2 linked regions of the Homo sapiens genome follow. The protein of the gene in region 1 interacts with the protein of each later gene in a pairwise test. Each region holds a gene or a part of one and is shown in the gene's direction. Other genes may lie near its edges.

Region 1 (12,538 bases):
GTGCCGGGTCACGTGGACAGCCGACGCCGACGTGGCCTCCGGCGGACGCTCCACGTGTCCCTCGCCGCGCCCCGTCTACCCGCCCCTGCCCTGAGGACCCTAGTCCAACATGGCGGCGCCCAGCGGAGGGTGGAACGGCGTCGGCGCGAGCTTGTGGGCCGCGCTGCTCCTAGGGGCCGTGGCGCTGAGGCCGGCGGAGGCGGTGTCCGAGCCCACGACGGTGGCGTTTGACGTGCGGCCCGGCGGCGTCGTGCATTCCTTCTCCCATAACGTGGGCCCGGGGGTACGTGCCACCGCCGTCCCGGATATTTGAGTGCTGGCAGGCCCGGGGAGGGGGCGCGGAGCATTGGGGGCGGGGCCCGAGGAGGGGGCGCGGACCGCGGAGGTGGGTACTGAAGAAGGGGTGCGGATTGTTAGGGTCGGAGGCTGAGTGGGGGGCGCGGGACCGTGAGGCCGGGGTCATCACTGGGGCAGGACTGAACTCATAGGGAGCGGGGCCTTGTGGGCCCCGGCGGCGTTGAGGGGGCGTGATCACCTGTCACCTGTCGCCTGCCTGGAGTGTCCAGGCACCCCTGCCCTCCAGACGCAGAGGTGGGGAGGGGTCAGTGATGGGAGCGGCAGGAGGCTAAAGGGCATCTGCCCTCCTGGGCCTGAAGGAAATCAGTCGCTGCAGCTCCGAAGAGGGAGGAAGTGCTCCTTCCTTCCATTGCACAAGGTCCCCCCTCACCGAGGGTGTGAGGCCGGGCCCTCAGCCCTGTACTCAGCTTGTCGGCAAAGTCCTTTCCCCTCTCAGCCTCCCTTTCCCCGCCTGTAATAACAGTATCTTTACTGTTTTTTGACTATTTCTTTTTAGACTTGCGTGCAGTGGCGGGATCTCGGCTCACTGCATCCTTAGCCTTCTGGGTTCAAGCAATTCTTCTGCCTCAGCCTCCCCAGTACCTGGGATTACAGACGTGTGCCACCACACCCGGATAATTGTTGTTGTTGTTGTTTGAGATGGAGCCTCACTCTGTCGCCCAGGCTGGAGTGCAGTGGCGCGATCTTGGCTCACTGCAACCTCTGCCTCCCAGGTTCATGCCATTCTCCTGCCGCAGCCTCCCAAGTAGCTGGGACTACTAATCTTTGTATTTTTAGTACAGATGGGATTTCACCATGTTAGCCAGGCTGGTCTTGAACTCCTGACCGCAGGTGACCCGCCCACCTCGGCCTCCCAAAGTGATGGGATTACAGGCGTGAGCCACTGTGCCAGGCCAGTTTGTTGACTACTTCCTTATAGTTAGGTGTGATGCCAAGTCCTTTATATGTTAGGCCCAAGTTACAGATGAGAAAATGCTTCACATAAAAAAGAGAAACAGAGAGAAACTAGAGGCTCAGAAAAGTTTTCACTTGTCCAGGTCCCATGGCAAAACCCATCTCTACAAAAATACGAAAAATTAGCCAGGTGTGGTAGCAGGTGCCTGTAATCCCAAGTACTCAGGAGGCTGAGGCAGGAGAATCGTTTGAACCCGGGAGGCAGAAGTTGCAGTGAGCTGAGATCATCCCACTTCAGCCTGGGCGACAGAACAAGACTCTGCTTCAAAAAAAAAAAAAAAAATTAGTCGGGTGTGGTGGTTGCGTACCTATTGTCTCAGTTACTTGAGAGGCTGAGGCAAGAGGATTACTCAAACCTGGGAGTTCGAGGCTGCAGTGAGCTGTCATTGTGCCCCTGCACTCCAGCTTGGGTGACAGCAAGACCCCGTCTCTTAAACAAAATAAAAATTTCCTTCTACCAAACCTTTTTTTTCCTTCCATTCTCTAGGACAAATATACGTGTATGTTCACTTACGCCTCTCAAGGAGGGACCAATGAGGTGAGTTGTTCAAAATTCCCTCTAGCTTACTGTGACAGTATCCATTGTTGTAGGGAGATGTTCTGTAGCAGACAGCAGGGTTGGGTCTCACCTATATCACCTTACACTCATTGAATGACTCTTCCTAAACCAATAAAAAGGGAGAGTATTGGCATTAAACAGTGACGACAGATTCTGCTGTTATTATTCTACAGAGCAAGCAAATGTCTGGACAGAAGGAGGGAGGGGAGATGGGAGTCTGCCATCCCCATGAGCATCTGTTGGGATGTTGTATTTTATGTGCAGTGCAACAAGTTATCACAGCTTAGGGGCTTAAAACAGCACCCATTTATTATCTCATAGCTTTGTAGGTCAGAAGTCTGGGTCAGCTCAGTTGTGTGCTTCATAAAACCAAACTCAAGGTATTTTGGGAGGCTGAGGCGGGCAGATCACCTGAGGTCAAAGTTCGAGACCAGCCTGGCCAACATGGCAAAACCTCATCTCTACTAAAAATACAAAAATTAGCTGGGCATGGTGGCACATGCCTGTAGTCCCAGCTACTCAGGAGGCTGAGGCAGGAGAATCACTTGAACCCAGGAGACGGAGGTTGCAGTGAGCCAAGATTGTGCCACTGCACTCCAGCCTGGGCAACAGAGCGAGACTCTGTCTCAAAAAATAAATAATAAATAAATAAAGGTATCACAGGCAAGGCATGGTGGCTCATGCCCCATCTCTACAGAAAATAAAAAAATTAGCCCAGCGTGGTGGCGTGCACCTGTGGTTCCAGCTACTTGGGAGACTGAGGTGGGAGGATCGCTTGAGCCCAGGAGGTCAAGGCTGTAGTGAGCCGTGATTGTGCTACTGGGCAACAGAGCAAGACCCTGTCTCAAAAAAAAAAAAAGTCTCTGGGCTGGGAGAAGAATCCTCTCCTTCAAGCTCTTAGTTGGCAGAATTCAGTTACTTGTGGTTCAGGGACCAAGGTCCCGGTTTCCTTGCTGGCTGTTGTCTCCAGCTGGTGGCAGAAGAGCCAGTAAAGATGATTTGGGCCAGGCACAGTGGCTCATGCCTATAATCCCAGCACTTTGGGAGGCCAAGGCTGGCGAATCACCTGAAGTCAGGAGCTCCAGACCAGCCTGGCCAACATGGTGAAACCCCGTCTCTACTAAAACTACAAAAATTAGCCGGGCGAGCCAGGCGCACTGGCTCATGCCTGTAATCCCAGCACTTTGGGAGGCCGAGGCGGGTGGATCACAAGGTCAGGAGATCGAGACCATCCTGGCTAACACGGTGAAACCCCGTCTCTACTAAAAATACAAAAAATTAGCCGGGTGTTTTGGTGGGCACCTGTAGTCCCAGCTACTGGGGAGGCTGAGGCAGGAGAATGGCGTGAACCCGGGAGGCGGAGCTTGCAGCGAGCCAAGATCGCGCCACTGCACTCCATCCTGGGCGACAGAGCGAGACTCTGTCTCAAAAAAAAAAAAAAAAAAAAAAAAAGGGTGATTTGAAGCACATGGACACATACGCCACTGCTGCCCTTGAGGGAACTGCAGGGCAGGGAATACACGCGGCCTCTAGGAGCTGAGAACAGCCTCTGGCTGGCAGCAAGGAAATGAAGACTTCAGTCCCGCAACCAAGAGGAACTGAAATCTGCCACAACCACAAGAGCTTGGAAGAGGACCTTGAGCTACCAGTAAGAGCCTAGCCCGGTCAACACCTTGAGATGGGTTTCGCCATGTTGGCCAGGCTGATCTTGAACTGCTGACCTCAAATGATCAGCCTGCCTCGGCCTCCCAAAGTGCTGGGATTACAGGTGTGAGCCACCGGTGCCCGGCCTCCTAGAGATTTTTCTGTATCCTATGTAAAGCGCTTCAGTTGCATGGACGTGTGGAGTTGACAATCCCGTACTAATGGATTGAGGGTTACTTCCAACCCAGTCCGTGAATAACCTTGGCCAGGGTTCATTGTACAAGTGCAGTTACATCTGTGGGAAAACCACCCAGAAGTGGGATTCATGGGTCCATTTTCTTAAAAGTAAAACTGGGCTGGGCGCGGTGGCTCACGCCTGTAATCCCAGCACTTTGAGAGGCCAAGGCAGGTGGATCGCCTGAGGTTGGGAGTTTGAGACCAGCCTTGCTAAGATGGTGAAACCCCATCTCTACTGAAAATACAAAAGTTAGCAGGGCGTGGTGGCACGCGCCTGTAATCCCAGCTACTCAGGAGGCTGAGGCAGGAGAATCGCTTGAACCCACGAGGCAGAGGTTGCAGTGAGCTGAGATCGCACCACTGCACTCCAGCCTGGGTGACAGAGCGAGACTCCATCTCAAAAAAAAAAAAAAAAGTAAAACTGTATGTTTTGAGATCATGGTAGATTTACATTCACTTGTAAGAAATCCTACAGAGAGATCCAAGTACCGTTTAACCAGGTTCCCCGGTGGTAACATCGTGCAAGAGGCCAGTCATTTTAGAGATGGGGTCTCGCTATGTTGCCCAGGCTGGTCTCGAACTCTTGGGTTCAAGTGATCATCCCACGTTGGCCTCCCAAAGTGCTGGGATTACAGGCATGAGCCACCATGCCCAGCCTGCATTTTCCATTTTGCTTGTACCTGTTGCAGCTCCACCGACAACCTGGAATAGTCTTGGTTTTCACACCCATATGGTGTGTTAGCAGACAGGAGGGCTTTTGCCCTTCTGACCTGGGAGAAAAAGGTATCTCACGATAGTTCAGCTTGTGTTTATTTATTTTTCATAAATGATATGGGACATCTTTTTTTTTTTTTTTTTTTTTTTTTTTTTTTGAGACAGAGTCTCGCTCTGTCGCCCAGGCTGGAGTGCAGTGGCGCGATCTCAGCTCACTGCAAGCTCCGCCTCCCGGGTACACGCCATTCTCCTGCCTTAGCCTCCCGAGTAGCTGGGACTACAGGCGCCCACCACTGCGCTCGGCTAATTTTTTGTATTTTTAGTAGAGATGGGGTTTCATCATGTTAGCCAGGATGGTCTTGATCTCCTGACCTCGTGATCTGCCTGCCTCGGCCTCCCAAAGTGCTGGGATTACAGGCGTGAGCCACCGCGCCCGGCCTGGACATCTATTTATATGTTTAAGAGTTGTTCTTAGGCCTGGCATGGTGGCTTATATCTGTAATCTCAGCACTTTGGGAGGCCAAGGTGGGAGGATTGCTTGAGGCCAGGAGGTTGAGACCAGCCTGGGCAATATGGCAAGACAGTGATTCTACAAAACACAAAAATTAGCTGGGTGTGGTCCCAGCTACTTGGGAGGCTGAGGTGGGAGGATCGCTTGAGCCCAGGAGGTAGAGGTTGCAGTGAGGCGAGATCGTGCCACTGCACGCCAGCCCAGGCCACAGAGAGAGACTCCATCTCAAAAACAAACAAACAAACAAACAAACAGCGTTGTTCCTATTTCCCCATCCGTGGGAGCCACTTTGGGGTAGTTCTCATTAGAGGCACCACTTTTATGGGAAGGATGTGGTGCAGGCAGGCTCCCTGATCACAGATGACAGCAAACCCCAGGCCACCAGGAGGGCGGGGCAGGGGATTTAGTGGCCAGCCCCTGAATCGGGAGGTACAGAAGAGGTGGCCTGACTGTAGAATCAGAGGCACACCTAGAAGTCTCCGAGAGCAGCTGTGTGTCCGGGGCTGACCCGCGCTGTCTTCTCTCCCCAGCAATGGCAGATGAGTCTGGGGACCAGCGAAGACCACCAGCACTTCACCTGCACCATCTGGAGGTGAGACTCGGGGTGGGGATGGCATTTCCGGCTGCCGTTGGCCTGCCCTGTGGCCTCAGGAGCTGCTTTGGAAGGCAGGGAACGAGGGCTGCACCCCTGGAGGGGAAGACAGACCAGCAGGGAGACTCATGCACGTGCAGGTGGGGGGTGGCAGGGTCGCTGGGGTGGGAGTGCTCCCCAAGGAAGTGCACTGATGCAGAGACTGAGAAGGTCTGGGGGAGACGGGGGGAGCCTGTGCGGGGCAAGGTCCCAGGAAAAGGAGAAGCAGCTCAGAGGGTGCGGAGCGTGGACCAGGGCCCAGGAAGGCCCCAAGGGGCTCCACCCTCCCCTAAGGGTGAGACGAACTCACCAAAGGGCTTTTTGGCAATTTTTTTTTTTTTTTTTTTGAGATGGAGTCTCCATCTTTTGCCCGGGCTGTAGTGCAGTGGAGCAATCTTGGCTCACTGCAGCCTCCGCCTCCTGGGTTCAAGCGATTCTCCTCCCTCAGCCTCCTGAGTAGCTGGGATTACAGGCGTGTGCCACCATGCCTGACCCTTTTTGGCAATGTTTAAAAACTGAGATAAAATTCCATAAAGCACAGCATTTTAAGCTCACAATTCAGCTGCATGGAGTACTTTCTCAGAGGTGTGCAGCCAGACCTCTGCTTCCAGAACATTTTCATCCCCTGAAAATAAACTCTGTTCCCATCAGAGTCATTCTCCTTCCCAGCACATGGCAGCCACGCATCCCCCTCCTGTCTCTGTGGATGGGCGTGTCCTGGACATTGCATAGAAATGGGGTCAAACCTTCCCTGTGTGGCCTTTGGTGTCTGGCGTCTCTCACTGAACGTGACGTCCTCAAGGCTCATCCATGCTGAGGCCCGTGTCAGCCTCATTTCTTTTCCTGGCTGAGTCCTATTCCAGAGGGCTCCCTGCAGGAACATGTGGAGCTCAGATCCCCCCGGCTGAAGGAGGCAGGCTGAGGCAGGGAGCCCCTCCAGGCACCAACCAGGATGGAGTCGGGGGTTGGGGGTGGGGCGCAGATTGAAGCCTGTGCAGAATGAGGATGGGGTGGGTGGAGAGGGCACAGATTGGAGGCTGTGTAGAATGAGGATGGGGTGGGTGGGGAGGGTAGATTGGAGGCTTTGTAGAATGAGGATGGGGTGGGTGGGGAGAGCACAGATTGGAGACTGTGTAGAATGAGGACAGGGTGGGTGGGGAGGGTATACTGGAGGCTGTAGAATGAGGATGAGGTGGGGAGGGTAGATTGGAGGCTGTAGAATGAGGATGGGGTGGGTGGGGAGGGTAGATTGGAGGCTGTGTAGAATGAGGGTGGGGTGGGTGGGGAGGATAGATTGGAGGCTGTGTAGAATGAGGATGGGGTGGGTGGAGAGTGCACAGGTTGGAGGCTGTAGAATGAGGATGGGGTGGGGAGGGTAGATTGGAGGCTGTGTAGAATGAGGATGGGGTGGGTGGAGAGGGCACAGATTGGAGGCTGTGTAGAATGAGGATGGGGTAGGTGGGGAGAGTAGATTGGATGCTGTAGAATGAGGATGGGGTGGATGGGAGCGTAGATTGGAGGCTGTGTAGAATGAGGATGGGATGGGTGGAGAGGGCACAGATTGGAGGCTGTAGAATGAGGATGGGGTGGGTGGGGAGGGTAGATTGGAGGCTGTGTAGAATGAGGACAGGACGGGTGGGGAGGGTAGATTGGAGGCTGTGTAGAATGAGGACAGGACGGGTGGGGAGGGTAGATTGGAGGCTGTAGAATGAGGATGAGGTGGGTGGGGAATGTAGATCGGAGGCTGTAGAATGAGGATGGAGTGGGGTGGGGAGAGTAGATTGGAGGCTGTAGAATGAGGACGGAGTGGGAGGGGAAGGCACAGACTGGAGGCTGTGTAAAATGAGGACAGGGAGGAGGGGAGGGCACAGATTGGAGGCTGTGGAATCAGCTAGCTGGGGTAGGAGGAGGAGGAAGGTGCTGGGCAGAGTCCTGGTGGAACTGGCGGAGCTGGTGCAGGTCTGGGCTGGGGACGAGCTAGGCAGGTGGCAGGTGTGGGAGTCTGTGGGGTAGTGGCTGTGGAGGTTTGGATGATGCTATCTCCCGGGGAATGTGTCCCACCAGAAGGGGCCCCAGCTGTTTCCCCTCAGGCAGGTCTTTACCAGCATGTTCTCTGAAGGACCAGCCTGATGGCTCATAGCCTTCTTGGGGTGCAGACATCTGGGAATCAGACAAAAGCTGTGCACTCTCTTCCACCTGCCCGAACACACATGCATCTGGGTCCACAGCCCCTCCCCAAGTCTCCCCAGACACCGCCCGATTCTGCCCCTGCCGCCATCCTCTGTCAGGCTCATGGTTTATGGGCTTATCCCGGCTCCACTCGCCCCACTCATTCTCGTAACCCCACTGCCTAGATCCCAGCTCGATCTGGGCAAGGTCATGAAGGGAAGGAAGCCGTCAGGCCCCCCGGTGGGGAGGGGGTCGGGGGCTTCAGGAATCTTGTCCCTTCTTCCCTGATCCTTGGCCCAGAATGTCTCAGCCCAAACAGTGGGTATTTCTTGAGCCTTTATTTTGTGCAGACACTTTGGAGGGAGAAGTCCAAGCTATAGCTCCACCACTGCGGTCAGGTTAAAGCACGTTGACAAATGGGAGGCAGAGATCAGGGAGTGGCGACGTTTAACTGAAGGACAGGGTGTGATTTGCTGCCTCGTGTGGGTGTTGTCCCGCCGTGCCCTGCGGGGCGCTTTACAAACAGCAGGTGTTTCTGGGGAGATTCTCACCCACTCCATGGAACTGGCTGCATCACAGGCAGGCCAAGGCCCCAGGAGGCATCAGGAGGGTCATTGAGAGGAGATAGGCCCCATCAGCCCAGAGAGACCCTGCAGAGGCCGCCCTGTAGTCTTGGGGAAGCCCACGGTCGCCATCGTCTGTCTGCAGGCCACTGCCCTGCATGGACCCCTGAGTGCCAGCTCCCCAGAGGGCATCTGGGCAGGTGCAGGTCTGGAGCAGTTGGGATGGTGGCTGGGCTCACCTTGAGCCTGAATCCTCCTGTCCAACCCCCACAAAAGCTCCCCAGGGGCATGCTCAGCCCCGGAGACCTGCCACCCCAGGCCTCCTCATCTCAGACAGTGACTGGACCCTCCCTGACCAGGGCTGTTGGCAGTGCTAGGGCTTAAAGAAGAATCTAGGGCTCCCTGGATACCCCCGCCCCACCCATGCACATAGAACCCCAGCCAGGGCTTCCACAGAAATGGCCCCCCTGCTGCCCCTCCATCCCCATCACACTCTCTTCACACCAGAGATGCCATCATCCCCTGCTGTCACCTTCCGACACCTTCTGCCACTCCAGTTCCTTAGAAGCCTCCGTTAGCAGCCTTCTAGAGACCTGGGCAGATGATCCTCCCCACTTCTTAAGTTAACTCCTGTACTTCCTAGTCAATGCCCTCTGAGAAGCCTTTACTGGCCTCTCATTGCCCAGCCCCAGCCCCCGTCGTAGTACCTGGATTGCTGTCAGCAACCAAGAAGCCATGTGCAGTGAATGGACATGGGGTCCTGTCCCAGAGCAGCTCCCAGCCCACAGGGGAGAGAGGCGTGTCTATGAATGAGCTGGAAGAACATTCTGGCACAAAGGGGCCAGGCACAGTGGCTCACACCTCTAATCACAGCCCTCTGGGAGGCTGAGGCGAGTGGATCACTTGAGGTCAGGGGTTCAGGCCAGGCTGGCCAACATGGTGAAACCATGTTTTTACTAAAAATACCAAAATTAGTCAGATGTGGTCGCGGGTGCCTGTACTCCCAGCTACAAGGGAGGCTAAGGCAGGAGAATCACTTAAACCCAGGAGGCAGAGGCTGCAGTGAGTGAGATTGTGCCATTGCCATCCAGCCTGGGCAACAGAGTGAGACTCGTCTCCAAAAAAAAAAAAAAAAAAAAATTCTGGCACAAAAGAAAGAGGGTCTGCTGTTGAGAGGGCCCCATCCATCCTTCCCAGTCAGCAGGTGCTCGTGCTCGGGAATGGCGTCCATGTTGAGAAGCAGGCACGAGACCTGCTGACCCCAGCCCGAGTCCCTGGCGGGGCTCCTTCCAGGGCACACAGACCCAGACCCAGCAGGCCTGGCCTGACTCCCTCGCCCCCTCTTCCTCTGCAGGCCCCAGGGGAAGTCCTATCTGTACTTCACACAGTTCAAGGCAGAGGTGCGGGGCGCTGAGATTGAGTACGCCATGGCCTACGTGAGTATCTTGGAGTGGGGCAGGCTCCGGGTGTGGCTTCTGTGCACTGGGGCAGCTGTGAGATGTCCTGCCACAAGAGGGCTCCATGGGGACAGGGAGGAGAGGGGACAGCGAATCCTGCAGAGGTAGGGTGTGTAACTTGCAGGAACCTGGCACACAGACGCCCCCAGGCCAGGGGCACGGGGGTTTGGTAACCTGTTGCTGCTGGCTTCTCTTGTATATGCCAGAAAAGACTTCTCCAGGCCAGGCGCGGCGGTTCACGCCAGTAATCCCAGCAATTTGGGAGGCTGAGGCAGGAGGATTGCTGGAGGCCAGGAATTTGATTCCAGCCTAGGCAACATAGCAAGACCCTATATCTACCAAAAGTAAAAAAAAAATAGCCAGGCGTGTTGGCATGCACCCATAGTCCCACCTACTCAGGAGGCCGCAGCAGGAGGATCACTTGAGTCCAGGACTTTGAAGCTGCAGTGAGCTATGATTGCACTGCTGCATTCCAGCCTGGACAGTAGAGTGAGGTCCTGGCTCAAAAACAAAAAAGTCTCCTCTCCATCTCTAGTAAAAGTAGAAAGCTTTAGTCTGTGCTTCTCTGGAAAGCAAACTCAATCGTTTTCCTAATGATGAGCATTGAACTGGCCCTGGTAAAGTTTCCACTCATTCTTTTTCAGTCTAAAGCCGCATTTGAAAGGGAAAGTGATGTCCCTCTGAAAACTGAGGAATTTGAAGTGACCAAAACAGCAGGTACGGAAAGATGGGGATGGGGTAGAGGTGACGCCACCCCCATCCAAGGGTGGGCAATCGGGGCAGTTTGGAGAGGGGGGTCAGCCATAGGGGTCCTGGAGACTGTAGACCAGGCATCCACAAACTGATTCTATAAAGGCCACCTCGTCAATATCTTCAGCTTTGTGGCACTGTGGGTTCTGTCTAGAGCTGTGCCATTGTGGCACAAAGCTGCTGCAGACAGTATGTCCATGCGTGGGTGTGGCTGTGTGCCACTAGAACTTTATCTTAGCTGGGCGCGGTGGCTCATGCCTGTTACCGCAGCTGCTCAGGAGGCTAAGGTGGGAGGATCATTGGAGCCCAGGAGGTCAAGACCAGCCTGGGCAACATAGCGAGACCCTGTCTCTACAAAATTTTTTTAAAAATCAGGCTGGGTGCGGTGGCTCACGCCTGTAATCCCAGCACTTTGGGAGGACGAGGCGGGCGGAACACTTGAGGTCAGGAGTTCCAGACCAGCTGGCCAACATAATGAAACCCCATCTCTACTAAAAATGCAAAAAATTAGCCAGGCGTGGTGGTGCGCACCTGTAATCCCAGCTATTCAGGAGAATTGCTGGAACCTGGGAGGTGGAGGTTGCAGTGAGCTGAGATCATGCCACTGCACTCTAGCCTGGAAGACAGCAAGATTCTGTCTCAAAAAGAAAAAAAATTAGCCGGGCATGGTGGTGTGTACCTGTAGTCTCAGCTACTTAGGAGGCTGAGGTGGGAGGATTATTTGAGCCCAGGAGGTCGAGGCTGCATTGAGCTATGATCGCACCACTGCACTCCAGCCTGGGCATCAGAGTAAGACTCTGTCTCAAAAACAATAAACAGGGCTGGGCATGGTGGCTCACACCTGTAATCCCAGCACTTTGGGAGGCCAGGAGTTCCAGACCAGCCTAGCCAACATGGTGAAACCCCTTCTCTACTAAAAATACCAAAATTAGCCAAGGATGGTGGCACATGCTTGTAATCCCAGCTACTCAGGAGGCAGAGACAGGAGAATCTCTTGAACTTAGGAGCAGGAGGTTGCAGTGAGTCGAGACTGCACCACTGCACTCCAGCCTAGGCAACAGAGGAAGACTCTCATCTCAAAAAAAATAATAAATTTTAAAAAATAAATAAATGAAATAAAACAAAGTAGAAACCATCAGGGCTTTGAGGTTGGGACTGTGGCATGCCGAGGGGAGGCTGCAGGGGTCACTGGGAAACATCAGGGTCCTTCTTCGGTTGCCTGAGCAGCACCGGTGTCCTCAAGCCACATTCAGCTGCATGGCGCCAATGCTAAGCAGAAAGAGGAATCGGAGGCGCCGAGCTGGGGCAAGGGTGGGAGCCAAGGGAGTGGACACAGCAGGTAGGGCCGGGAGACTTGGGTGAAGCAGTGGAAGCCAGAGTTCTGACCCTGCTGGAGAAGTGTCATGAGGGCCTCAGACAGGTTCACCCACTGAGCAGGAGGTCTTGCAGCCTGACCCACCCTGCATCCTGTTCAGGCCGGGATCATCTCCTTCCTGGGCTTCTTCTGGCCCCTTTCTGCATCTCTTCTTGACAACATGGCACAAATGACCAGGGTTCTTCCCACCTCAGGTCTTTCTGTGGCTTCCTGCTGCCTGCCATCTATGTTAGCCCCACCGACCTTACCCTCCACATCACTGTTTTCCTGTCTGTCACCCGTAAGACTTTCAGTGCCTGGGGCCTTTTCACATGGGAGTCTGCTTTGGAGACTGCTCCCCTTGCCTGCTTAGCCCCCACCATGGGCCCCACCCCAAATCCTCCGGACTTCTGAGAATTTTCAATGTTGAGGGCCCAACCATGTGTTTCTTTCTTGCAGTGGCTCACAGGCCCGGGGCATTCAAAGCTGAGCTGTCCAAGCTGGTGATTGTGGCCAAGGCATCGCGCACTGAGCTGTGACCAGCAGCCCTGTTGCGGGTGGCACCTTCTCATCTCCGGTGAAGCTGAAGGGGCCTGTGTCCCTGAAAGGGCCAGCACATCACTGGTTTTCTAGGAGGG
Region 2 (12,538 bases), on another chromosome or scaffold:
GAGAAGTTGTTCCTCTGTAGTGGTTTGGGAAATTTCTCAAAGGCACCCAACTCCTGAAGAAGTAAGTTAGCCCTTGGAGGAAGACTGAGTGCTTTTCTGAGACCAGCACTCACAAAGCCCGAAGGTGTTTGTTTGTTTTTGTTTTTTTAGGATGAGGTTTCGCCCTTGTTGCCTAGGCTGGAGTGCAATGGCGCGATCTCGGCTCACTGCAACCTCCACCTCCCTGGTTCAAACAATTCTCCTGCCTCACTCAGCCTCCCGAGTGGCTGGGATTACAGGCATGCGCCACCATGCCCAGCTAATATTGTACTTTTAGTAGAGACAGGGTTTCTCCATGTTGGTCAGGCTGCTCTCGAACTCCCGACCTCAGGTGAAACGCCTGCCTCCGCCTCCCAAAGTGCTGGGATTACTGGTGTGAGCCGCCACGCCAGACCTTGAAGGTGTTTGTTGTTGTTGTTGTTTTGAGATGGAGTCTTGCTCTGTTGCCCATGCGGGAGTGCAGTGACACGATCTCGGCTCACTGCAACCTCCGCCTCCTGGGTTCAAGTGATTCTCATGCCTCAGCCTTCCAAGTAGCTGGGATGATTACAGGCATGCGCCACCAAGCCTGGCTAATTCTTTATTTTTATTAGAGACAGGGTTTCATCATGTTGGTCAGGCTGGTCTCAAACTGCTGACCTCAGGTGATCCACCTGCCTTGGCCTCCCGAAGTGCTGGGATTACAGGCATGAGCCACCATGCCCCGCCAAAAGCAGGGATTTACTGAAAATGAAAGGACACTCCTGTGTTTGGGGTGTGGAGCAGCAGCTCAGGGGCCCTAATACCCCATTGAAGTCTCCTATTGGCCACTTGGTACTCATCTCATGTAAATGAAGTGGTGACCCACAATTGGCTGTGAAAAGCAACCAATGAAAGGCTAAAGTGAAGTTACAAAGTTGCCCTTATATGCAAACGAAGACGTGGCGTGCAATCAGATGGTGAAGTTACATAGTTACACTCCTATGGGAAGATCTGATTGGTTGCAGAAAGAATAATTTTTTTTAAGGGATAACTTACTTCTTAGCGTAATTTTGCTTTTTGCAACCAATCAGAGGTACTTTCAATTTCCCATCTGCCACACAGAAAAGGTGGGGGTTTGGAAAGGGAGAAGCCTCTGGTTCTTTTGTTACTTGGTGTGGGAAGTTAGGGTTTTACTTTCAATTTAGTTCTAGGAAGTCAGCGTGAAACAGCCCTAGGTTCCCTGCCTCCAGATCCGATTCTCCTGCCTCGCTTGTAAGAAAATCATGCTCCATAAGAAGCATTTATAACTAAACCTTGTGAACCCCAAAAATTTGAGACAGGTATCAGTTAATTTAGAAAGTTTATTTTGCCAAGGTTGAGGATGCGCACGCAGTGACACAGCCTCAGGAGGTCCTGACAACATGTGCCCAAGGTGGTCAGAGCACAGCTTGGTTTTATGCGTTTTAGGGACATATAAGACATCAATCAATATATGTAAAATGAACACTGGTTGGGTTCGGAAAGGCGGGACAACTTGAAGCGGGAAGGGGGCTTCCAGGTCACGGGTAGGTGGGAGACAAATGGTTGCATTCTTTTGAGTTTCTGATTTACCTTTCCTAAGGAGGCAGTCAGATACACATTTATCTCAATGAGCAGAGGGATGACTTTGAATAGAATGGGAGGCAAGTTTGTCTTAAGTAGTTCCTAGCTTGAATTTTCCTTTTAACTTAGTGATTTGGGGGCCCAAGATATTTTCCTTTACATTTGCCCCCTTTTCTTTTTTTTAAAAAAAATTTTTTTTTGGAGAAAGCATTTTAGAAGAAAAATGAGTCTTTGGTCCCAGATTTCATCTGATCGCTCATGCTAGGATGGTTTATTCCTAGACAGGTAAGTCCCAAGTTATTAGGAAAGCTAATTTTTAGAAGGCTGTGAACTCCCATGTCTTGTGAAGAGAAAATAGGGGGAGGAAGGGTGAAAAACAACAAACAAAAGAACAATCCTGGAAAATATACATAGGCCACGTTATTCTGAAGTCCATACATCAGTAGGCAGGTATGAAAGTGGCTTATGCGTGTAAATAGGTTGCTGTTATTTTCTTCTGAAGTTTAAGTTGTCTAGCTTCAGTTTGCAGGGCTTTACAAAAGCACAGCTGTTTTCAGTGACTCCTAATTAGGAAAAAAAAGGAAAAGAAAAGAAAAAAATTAAAAATATTATTTTGGAGACTTGTAGCCAGGAAAAATTAGAATTCAGCCTAAACTGTAGAAAATAATAAAAATTGAAAAAATTAGGCAAGACTAGTATCTAACAACAAGTGGACTGTAAGTTTTGAAACAATTTTTCTCTCTCCAGTTTTCCATTTTTACTAAAGACAAATCATGGTAGGACTGATTTGCTTTATTATATTTGACCAGATTATTTATATAAAGTGTAGCAAGAATAATTATTTTTCACATAGGCTTTTTAAAATTGGCTTTGAAGGAACTTTGTTCCATAGAAGGAATCTCAGATAAGATTCTTTTTAAAGCCAAGCTCAGCCATGGATTTGTACCATCAAATACCTATGAGTAGGGTGAATTTCCTCTTTTTGATGTTCCATGATAAACCAGGGGCTCCTGGACCTGTCAGAAAATGACATTCTTTACTTAGCACATATCAGAAACCCTGTACAGGGACTTTGTAAAGTGTGAGGCCAGTTTTCCCAAGGGCTTTTATTGGCTCCATAAGTCAGGTTTGATTACTTAAAGGAAAGTACACCTTTCCACTCAAAGCCTTGGTAAAATAATCAGTTTCTCCAACTGTGTCCTGTTACAAATGAAAACAGATTCTTACTGCACTTATGCAAATAACTGTATTGGCACAAGTTAAGAATACTCACAAATAGTTTACAAATTCTGGAGAAATCAGGTAGAGAGAAACAAATATGCTCCAAATTTTGTTGATTGGAGTATACTAAATTGTTAAAAGCTGTCAATAGCTCAAAAGAAAAGTTTCAAGGCTCTGAAAAACAAAGCAAAAGATCAGCAATGTTTAAGCAAAAAGTCAAAAAGATTAGTTCAGTCCCCTTAGTTAATTCCTATTCTGCTTGATATTCATGAGCATTTTAGCTCTCCATGAGTTCTGAAAGTTTTTCCTCTATTCTCATGTAACAATCTCCAAAGTTAATGGAGACCTGCATTCAAGAGGAAACAACAGGTGCTGGAGAGGATGTGGAGGAATAGTTACGTTTTTACACTGTTGGTGGGAGTGTAAACTAGGTCAACCATTGTGGAAGACACTGTGGTGATTCCTCAAGGATCTAGAACTAGAAATACCATTTGACCCAGCCATCCCATTACTGGGTATATACCCAAAGGATTATAAATCATGCTACGATAAAGACACATGCACATGTATGTTTATTGCAGCACTATTCACCATAGCAAAGACTTGGAACCAACCCAAATGTCCATCAATGATAGACTGGATTAAGAAAAAATGACACATATACACGATGGAATACTATGCAGCCATAAAAAAGGATGAGTTCATGTCCTTTGTAGGGACATGGATGAAGCTGGAAACCATCATTCTCAGCAAACTATCACAAGGACAGAAAACCAAATACCGCATGTTCTCACTCATAGTTGGGAATTGAACAATGAGAACATTTGGACACAGGGCAGGGAACATCACACACTGGGGCCTGTCGTGGGGTGGGGGGATGGGGGAGGGATAGCACTAGGAGAAATACCTAATGTAAATGACGAATTAATGGGTGCAGCAAACCAACATGGCACATGTATACATATGTAACAAAACTGCACGTTGTGCACATGTACCCTAGAACTTAAAGTATAATTTAAAAAAACAAATTTAACAAAGAAAACATTATCAAGAATAAATAATGAATCTCAAAAAACAACAACAGCAACAACAAAAAAAAACACTTTCTAAAGAGGACCAAAACAACACAACAATTGTGCGTGGATGACTAAAAGTTTTAGGGCAGCCATAGGCAAAGACACAATTGACAAGGAAATTTGATACCTCTCCTCTGTAGCACACAATAATTTTAACGTAACAATTATGATTATTACTGATAATGTACACTAGGTCATATCAGAATTACAGGAATTTCCCATAATTTTGGAACACATACCAATAACATATTTATACAAATACATCTCAAAGAAAGCCAAACACTGTTGCATATTTGACAATGCTTCCTGTGTAATTTTTGTACCAAATAAGCCAAATTATGCCATTTTTGGACTTCAGGGAATCTAATATCTTAAAGGACTAATTAGGTCAGAAAAAGACATAATTTATAATTTGATTTTGGAAAGTTTGTCAAATATCAAATGTTTAAAACACCTGATATCACAAAAATAGGATCACAGGTCATTATAAAATAAATCATTCATTTAACCAAAGTGATAACTCAAGGATTTCATAAAAAGGTGAAAACCTTCATTCTTTGAGAGAGGGGACTTAACTTTCCAAACAATAAGCCCTAATAAAAACAGCATGAAGCTAATTAAATTTGTTTTCAAAATTTTATAAACAATCTATAAAATTTTAAACTTGACCATAAGATATAATTTCTAACTGGGCGTGGTGGCTCACGCCTATAATCCCAGCACTTTGGGAGGCCGAGGTGGGCAGATCAGGAGGTCAGGAGATCAAGACCATCCTGGCCAACATGGTGAAACCCCTTCTCTACTAAAAATACAAAAATTAGCTGAGTGTGGTGGCACGCGTCTGTAGTCCCAGCTACTCGGGAGGCTGAGGCAGGAGAATCGCTTGAAGCCAGGAGGCGGAGGTTACAGTGAGCTGAGATTGAGCCACTGCAGTTCCAGCCTGGGTGACAGGGCGAGACTCCATCTCAAAAAAAGAAAAGAAAACAAAAGATATAACTTCCATAAGCCTTTATAACCTTTATTAAGGAGTCAGTTAATGTGTCAAGAAAACCTTGTTAATCTGATTACAGGGGCCCATAAGCTGATCTTGCATCATTGTGCCTTTGACGTTAATCATTAATTTATAGAGAAACTGAACTTATTTTATCTTTCAAATTTGGACCTTACAGTCTTACCTGCCCACCTCTTCTTCGATAGTCTCTGGGCCTTGAGGAGTTGAATGCCTTTAATTTCTGGCCGTGTATCTCAGGAATGCAGTTTATTTTGATTGGCGTCTTCTACGGGGCCTGAAGATGACAGCTTCAATTGCTGTCAGTGTTTAAGATTTAGTAGGACTTGGTGTCCTTTTTAGACCCAGGAGTCAAAGCCCTGTAACCTAAGGTCACAAGGACTTTAAAAGCACATACAGGAAAATACCCAGTTGTAATCATGTTAATTAAAAAATCTTTTTTTAATCTCAGTTTTTTCCTAAACATAGGAATTATTTCAACAAAATGTAAACTCTGTTAGGTCAGTTACCAAAAAGCAAAAGAAAAGACCTTCTGCAATGCACAGAACATGATGTTGGAAGAAAACACTTCCTTTAGACCTTTAAGACAGTGTGCCTTTTTAAAGGGGAGAGAAAGCTGAAAAAAAATGGCAAGATGCAATAAAAATTGAACTTTCAGTTTTAAAAAAAAATTAAATTCTCTTATAATTTTTTTTTTGAAATAGAGTCTCGCACTGTTGCCCAGTTTGGAGTGCACTGGTGCAATCTTGGCTCACTGCAGCCTCTGCCTCTTGGGTTCAAGCAATTCTTGTGCCTCAGCCTGCCAAGTAGCTGGGACTACAGGCACATGCCACCAGGCCTGGCTAATTTTTGTATTTTTGTTAGAGACGAGGTGTCACTACGTTGGCCGGGCTAGTCTACAACTCCTGACCTCAAGTGATCCACCTGTCTTGGCCTCCCAAAGTGCTGGGATTACAGGCAGAAGCCACCATTCGTAGGCAAATTCTCTTATAATTTATTAAGAGTAAGTTAACCCCTTAAGAAAAGTTTATTTTTCTAACCAATAATTTCGTGTATATGTGTCTTTTTTAACATGAAGCCCAGTCTCTAGAAAGAGCATTATAATTTCCTTTTAATTGTAAACATGATCATATACAATTTTTTTAAAACAAATCCTCTTATTGTGACATACACAGACCATTCATGACATGCTTGAACTTTTATCTTAGGACTAAATTTACCATACAGTATTCTTTCTCATGTAAAATTATTTCTAAGCTTTCTTACCACATACAAAAAAAATTTGTTTTATAACTTCCTTTACAACATCTCTCTTATTTCCTGATTCCTTTACCTTGTTGTATACATAACCTTTAAATAAGTTTTGTGGGGTTTTTTTTGTTTGTTTGTTTTTTATCTGAGACAGAGTCTTGCTCTGGCACCCAGGCTGGAAGGCAATGGCCCGATCTTGGCTCACTGCAACCTCCACCTCCTGGGTTCAAGTGATTCTCCTGCCTCAGCCTCTCGAGTCGCTGGGATTACACGTGCACCACAATGCCCAACTAATTTTATATTTATAGTAGGGACAGGGTTTCACCATGTTGATCAAGCTGGTCTTGAACTGACTTCAAGTGATCTGCATGCCACGGCCTCCCAAAGTGCTGGGATTGCAGGCATGAGCCGCTGCCCCTGGCCTAAATAAGCTTTGAATTAGACAAAACTTGTTCACCGTTTTTGGGGGGTTTTGTTTGTTTTTTTGTTTTTTTGAGATAGAGTCTCATTCTGTCACCCAGGCTGGAGTGCAGTTGCGTGATTTCAGCTGAGTGCAGCGTCTGCTTCCTGTGTTCAAGTTATTCTCCTGCGTCAGCCTCCTGAGTAGGTGGGATTACAGGCGCCTGCCACCACGCCTGGCTAATTTTCATTTTTTGTATATTTAGTAGAGACAGGGTTTCACCATGTTGGCCAAGCTAGTCTCAAACTCCTGACCTCAAGTGATCTGACTGCCTTGGCCTCCCAAAATGCTGGGATTACAGGCATGAGTCAGTGCACCCAGCCCTAGAGTTCAACTGTTTTTTTATTTTCTTATTATACTTTAAGTTCTAGGGTACATGTGTGCAACGTGCAGGTTTGTTACATATGTATACATGTGCCATGTTGGTGTGCTGCACCCATTAACTCATCATTTACATTAGGTATATCTCCTAATGCTATCCCTCCCCCCTCCCCCCACCCCACGACAGGCCCCGGTGTGTGATGTTCCCCACCCTGTGTCCAAGTGTTCTCATTGTTCAGTTCCCATCTATGAGTGAGAACATGTGGTGTTTGGTTTTCTTTCCTTGAAATAGTTTGCTGAGAATGATGGTTTCCAGCTTCATCCGTGTCCCTACAAAGGACATGAACTCATCCTTTTTTATGGCTGCATAGTATTCCATGGTATATATGTGCCACATTTTCTTATTCCAGTCTATCATTCATGGACATTTGTGTTGGTTCCAAGTCTTTGCTATGGTGAATAGTGCTGCAGTAAACATACATGTGCATGTGTCTTTACAGCAGCATGATTTATAATCCTTTGGGTATATACCCAGTAATGGGATGGCTGGGTCAAATGGTATTTCTAGGTGTAGATCCTTGAGGAATTGCCAGTGTCTTCTACAATGGTTGAACTAGTTTACAGTCCCACCAACAGTGTAAAAGTGTTCCTATTTCTCCACATCCTGTCCAGCACCTGTTGTTTCCTGACTTTTTAATGATCACCATTCTAACTGGTGTGAGATGGTATCTCATTGTGGTTTTGATTTGCATTTCTCTGATGGCCAGTGATGAAGAGCATTTTTTCATGTATCTGTTGGCTGCATAAATGTCTTATTTTGAGAAGTGTCTGTTCATATCCTTTGCCCACTTTTCGATGGGGTTGTTTGATTTTTTCTTGTAAATTTGTTTAAGTTCTTTGTAGATTCTGGATATTAGCCCTTTGTCAGTTGGGTAGATTGTAAAAATTTTCTCCCATCCTGTAGGTTGCCTGTTCACTCTAATGGTAGTTTCTTTTGCTGTGCAGAAGCTCTTTAGTTTAATTAGCTCCCATTTGTCAATTTTGGCTTTTGTTGCCATTGCTTTTGGTGTTTTAGACATGAAGTCTTTGCCTATGCCCTGAATGGTATTGTCTAGGTTTTCTTCTAGGGTTTTTATGGTTTTAAGCCTAACATTTAAGTCTTTAATCCATCTTGAATTAAGTTTTGTGTAAGGTGTAAGGAAGGGATCCAGTTTCAGCTTTCTACATATGGCTAACCTGTTTTCCCAGCACCATTTATTAAAAGGGAATCCTTTCCCCATTTCTTGTTTTTGTCAGGTTTGTCAAAGATGAGATGGTTGTAGATGTGTGGTATTATTTCTGAGGGCTCTGTTCTGTTCCATTGGTCTATATCTCTGTTTTGGTACCAGTACCATGCTGTTTTGGTTACTGTAGCCTTGTAGTATAGTTTGAAGTCAGGTAGCGTGATGCCTCTCCAGCTTTGTTCTTTTGGCTTAGGATTGTCTTGGCAATGCAGGCTCTTTTTTGGTTCCATATGAACTTTAAAGTAGTTTTTTCCAATTCTGTGAAGAAAGTCATTGGTAGCTTGATGGGGATGGCATTGAATCTATAAATTACCTTGGGCAGTATGGCCATTTTCACGATATTGATTCTTCCTATCCATGAGCATGGAATGTTCTTCCATTTGTTTGTGTCCTCTTTTATTTCGTTGAGCAGTGGTTTGTAGTTCTCCTTGAAGAGGTCCTTCACATCCCTTGTAAGTTGGATTCCTAGGTATTTTATTCTCTTTGAAGCAATTGTGAATGGGAGTTCACTCATGATTTGGCTGTTTGTCTGTTATTGGTGTATAGGAATGCTTGTGATTTTTGCACATTGATTTTGTATCCTGAGACTTTGCTGAAGTTGCTTATCCGCTTAAGGAGATTTTGGGCTGAGATGATGGGGTTTTCTAAATATACAATCATGTCATCTACAAACAGGGACAATTATAGAAGGACTGGGGGTCCTTCTATAAGCATTTCTAATAGAGGGTCCTGCCTTGCCGCTCTTTTGGCTTCAATATCCGCTTGGCAGTTCCTTTCTGTTTCCCTTTCCTTTCTGGTGACTCTGGCAGTGTAAGACTGCCACCTCTTTAGGTTTCTGTACAGCCAATAGTAATCTCCTAATGGCTTCCTGATGTTTGATAGGTGTTCCCTCGGAAGTTAGGAATTCCCCTCTCTCCATATTGCTGCATGGGCATGGAGGACTAGGTAAGCGTACTTAGAGTCTGTATATATATTTACCCTTTTCCCTTCTCCTAATTCTAGTGCCCGAGTGAGGGCTATTAGTTCTGCATGCTGAGCACTAGTTCCTGGAGTGAGGGGATTAGTTTCAAGTATTCCATTATCACTGACCACTGCATACCCCGCTTTTCAAAGTCCTTTTTCTGCAAAGGAACTTCCATCAGTATACAAGTTGAGGTTGGGATCAGTCAAGGGAACCCCTAAAAGGTCCCCTTGAGCAGCATTAGGTTTGAGCAATCACATGTTGGCATTTATGTTCTATCTTTTCTTCATTGTCTGGAAGAAATGTGGCTGTGTTAAGAGTTGCACAAGTGCGCAGTCACACCACTGGCCCATCAAGTAATAGAGCCTGATATTTAAGTAAACGGTTGTCTGACAGCCACAAGTCTCCTTTAGCAGTGAGTATGCCATTCACATCATGAGATGTTCACACAGTAAGATCTCTTCCCTGTATTACTTTAACTGCTTCAGATACTAAGACTGCTACTGTTGCCACTACCCGTAAACAATGAGGCCAACCCTTTGCCAGTACATCAATTTCCTTACTCAGGTATGCCACAGGTTGCAAGCTGGTCCCTCGGACCTGTATAAGGACTCCTAGAGCTATTCCTGTTTCTTTTGCGACATATAAAGAAAAGTCTTGCCCCATTGGCAAGCTTACCACTGGGGCTTGGGTTAGGGCCTTCTTTAGGGCCTGAAAAGCCACTTCTGCTTCAGGTGTCCATCTTACTAAATGGGTATTGGCTTTCTGAGTTTCCTTAGTGTGTATAATGGCCTGACTATTTCGCTGTACCTGGGAATCCATATTCGGCAGAAGCTTGTTATGCCAAGGAACCCTCTTAGTTGCTTTAGGGTTTTGGGATGAGGATAAGCCAGTATAGGCTGGATACGTTCCTCACTGAGGGCCCTTGTGCCTTTGGATAATTTTAGCCCTAAGTTTTTAACCTGCTGTGAGCAGAGCTGAGCATTTTGTTTGGAAACCTTGTAGCCACAGGTAGCAAGGAAATTTAAGAGTGCTTGGGTGGCTTGATGGCACCAGGTTTCTGATCGGGTGGCTAAAATTAAATCATCCCCGTACTGAAGGACAAGAGTGTCCAGGTATGAGAATTGGCTCAAGTCTTGGGCTAATGCCTGGCCAAATAGATGGGCGCTATGCTTGAACCCTTGGGGTAAAACAGTCCAGGTGAGTTGAGACATTGGGTTCAAAGGATCTTCAAAGGCAAACAAGAATTGAGAGTCAGGGTGTACAGGGATGCAGAAAAAGGCATCCTTAAGGTCCAGGACTGTAAACCACTCTGCTTTCTGTGGTTTTTGGGAAAGCAGAGTACAAGGGTTAGGTATAGCAGGGTATAGAGGAAGAACAGCCTCATTGATAATCCTGAGATCTTGCACTAACCTCCACTGTCCATTAGGTTTCTGTACTCCTAAAACTGGAGTATTGCAGGGGCTATTGCATGGTTTTACTAGGCCTTGGGCTTTTAAGTCCTTAACAATCTTTTGGAGTCCTTGTTGGGCCTCAGGTCTAAGGGTACTGCCTTTGGTAGGGAAAGGAGGTAGAATCCTTTAATTTAACTTGAATAGGACAGGCATTCTTTGCTCATCCATATTGTCCTTCTGTTGCCCAGACGTCAGGATTAATTCCTTCCTCAAGCAGGGGAAAACAAACAGGTGTTCCTTCTCCTATGTTCAGATATATAATGGCCCCTGCTTTTGCTAGAATGTCTCCCCCTAACAAGGGAGTGGGGCTTTCAGGCATAATTAGAAAAGCATGTGAAAAGAGTAAAGTTCCCCAGTCACAACTTAGTGGCTGTCCTAGGACCCCTCGGATAGTGACAGATCTGGAGGACAGTTGTCTGGGACAGGAGAGTAAGACTGAGAAGGCCATGCCAGTGTCCAGGAGACAGTTAACCTCCTGGCCTTCAATGTTCAAGCATACCCGGGGCCCTGTGAGGGTGATGGCATGGGCTGGTGCTTGCCCCGGGCACCCTCAGTCCTGCTGCTGGATCATCTGGTTAGTGGCTTCTGACTCAGAGGACCTTCGTCCCCTGGGGCAATGGGCCTTCCAGTGATTCCCTTGACATAAGGGGCATGGACGAGGGGGCAGCTTACTTCTACTTGGACAATCTTTTTTAAAGTGTCCTTGTAGACCACACTGGAAGCAAGCCATATTAGGCATTCGATTTGCCCAGCTTTTCCCTTTTCCAGAGACTCCAAAGTCCGCTTGCCTGAGGGCCATGACTAAAGCAGTGGCCTTTTTTTTTATCCCGTTTGTCCCATTCCGCCTGCTTCTCCTGATCTGTATTATAAAAAACCGAGGTTGCCAAGTTCAATAGGGTCTAAGTTTTGCTCTGGGCCTAAGGCGGACTTTTGAAGTTTTTTTCTAATGTCTGCAGTTGACTGAGTGATAAACTTATCCTTTAAGATTAGTTGGCCTTCAATAGAGTCAGGTGACAGAGAGGTATGCTTCCTCAATGCCTCCCTTAGTCTCACCAGAAAGGCAGTAGGATTTTCTTCCTTTCCCTGTGTTATAGTGGACATCATTGCATAATTCATAGGCTTCTTCCTAGTTTTCCTTAGTCCTAGCACACAAGTTAGCAAATGTCTGCGGCACCAATTTCCATGTTCTGATTCTGTGTCCCAATGAGGGTCTACACTGGGAACTGCCTGCTGGCCTGTGGGGAATTGTTCTCTTTCCTCTGTTGTCATCCTATCATTGACCTGACTGAGATACCAGAGATCACCAAACTCTTCGGGCTGCAGTTATGGCGACACTTCTCTCATTTGGGGTTAGTGTCTGATTTAGCAGTAACATTATATCTCTCCACATCAGATCAAAAGATTGTCCTAACCCTTATAAAACTTCAGTATAGCCATCAGGGTTATCTGAGAATTTACCTAGGTCTATTTTAATTTGCTTTAAGTCTGAGAGAGAAAAAGGTACATGCACTCTGGCTGGGCCGAATTCTGCTCCTCACATTGCTTGGAGGGGGCATAATCGGGGAATATTGGCACTGTTTGGTTCATTGTTTATCCCTTTGTCTATCTTCTTTGGACCTTTGGGTAAAAGGGGGGTCCCTTATTAGTTGCAGAAGGAGTCGGGGGGATGCTGAGATAGGGAGGCAGACTCTGAGGGCTTCCTGTAGGGCATAAACCACACTTTTTACATAATTGCGAGTTGTCTCTTAATGAAAAGGAAGTTTGCACATATGGCACTTCACTCCATTTGCCCTCCTTTCTACAGAAGAGGTCAAGCTGTAAGATGGTGTTATAATTTATACTTCCCTCAAGAGGCCAGGTTTCTCCCCCTTGAAGAGGATATCATGGCCAGGCAGTACTG

What was found.
Region 2: the proteins of MYDGF (region 1) and ACOT13 interact in binary tests that used the Homo sapiens proteins (3 or more experiments, as listed by UniProt).

The regions. Positions count from the first base shown.
Region 1 is NC_000019.10:4,657,906-4,670,443, reverse strand, and holds the start of MYDGF (myeloid-derived growth factor precursor), read left to right. Parts: upstream 1-101; 5' UTR 102-109; coding exon 110-283; intron 284-1,798; coding exon 1,799-1,849; intron 1,850-5,506; coding exon 5,507-5,568; intron 5,569-8,365; coding exon of another isoform or gene 8,366-8,723; exon of another isoform or gene 8,724-8,738; intron 8,739-9,693; coding exon 9,694-9,775; intron 9,776-10,440; coding exon 10,441-10,513; intron 10,514-12,359; coding exon 12,360-12,439; 3' UTR 12,440-12,538. UniProt on the Homo sapiens protein: Bone marrow-derived monocyte and paracrine-acting protein that promotes cardiac myocyte survival and adaptive angiogenesis for cardiac protection and/or repair after myocardial infarction (MI).
Region 2 is NC_000006.12:24,667,774-24,680,311, forward strand, and holds part of ACOT13 (acyl-coenzyme A thioesterase 13), read left to right. Parts: intron 1-1,343; exon of another isoform or gene 1,344-2,165; intron 2,166-2,875; exon of another isoform or gene 2,876-12,538. UniProt on the Homo sapiens protein: Catalyzes the hydrolysis of acyl-CoAs into free fatty acids and coenzyme A (CoASH), regulating their respective intracellular levels. Has acyl-CoA thioesterase activity towards medium (C12) and long-chain (C18) fatty acyl-CoA substrates.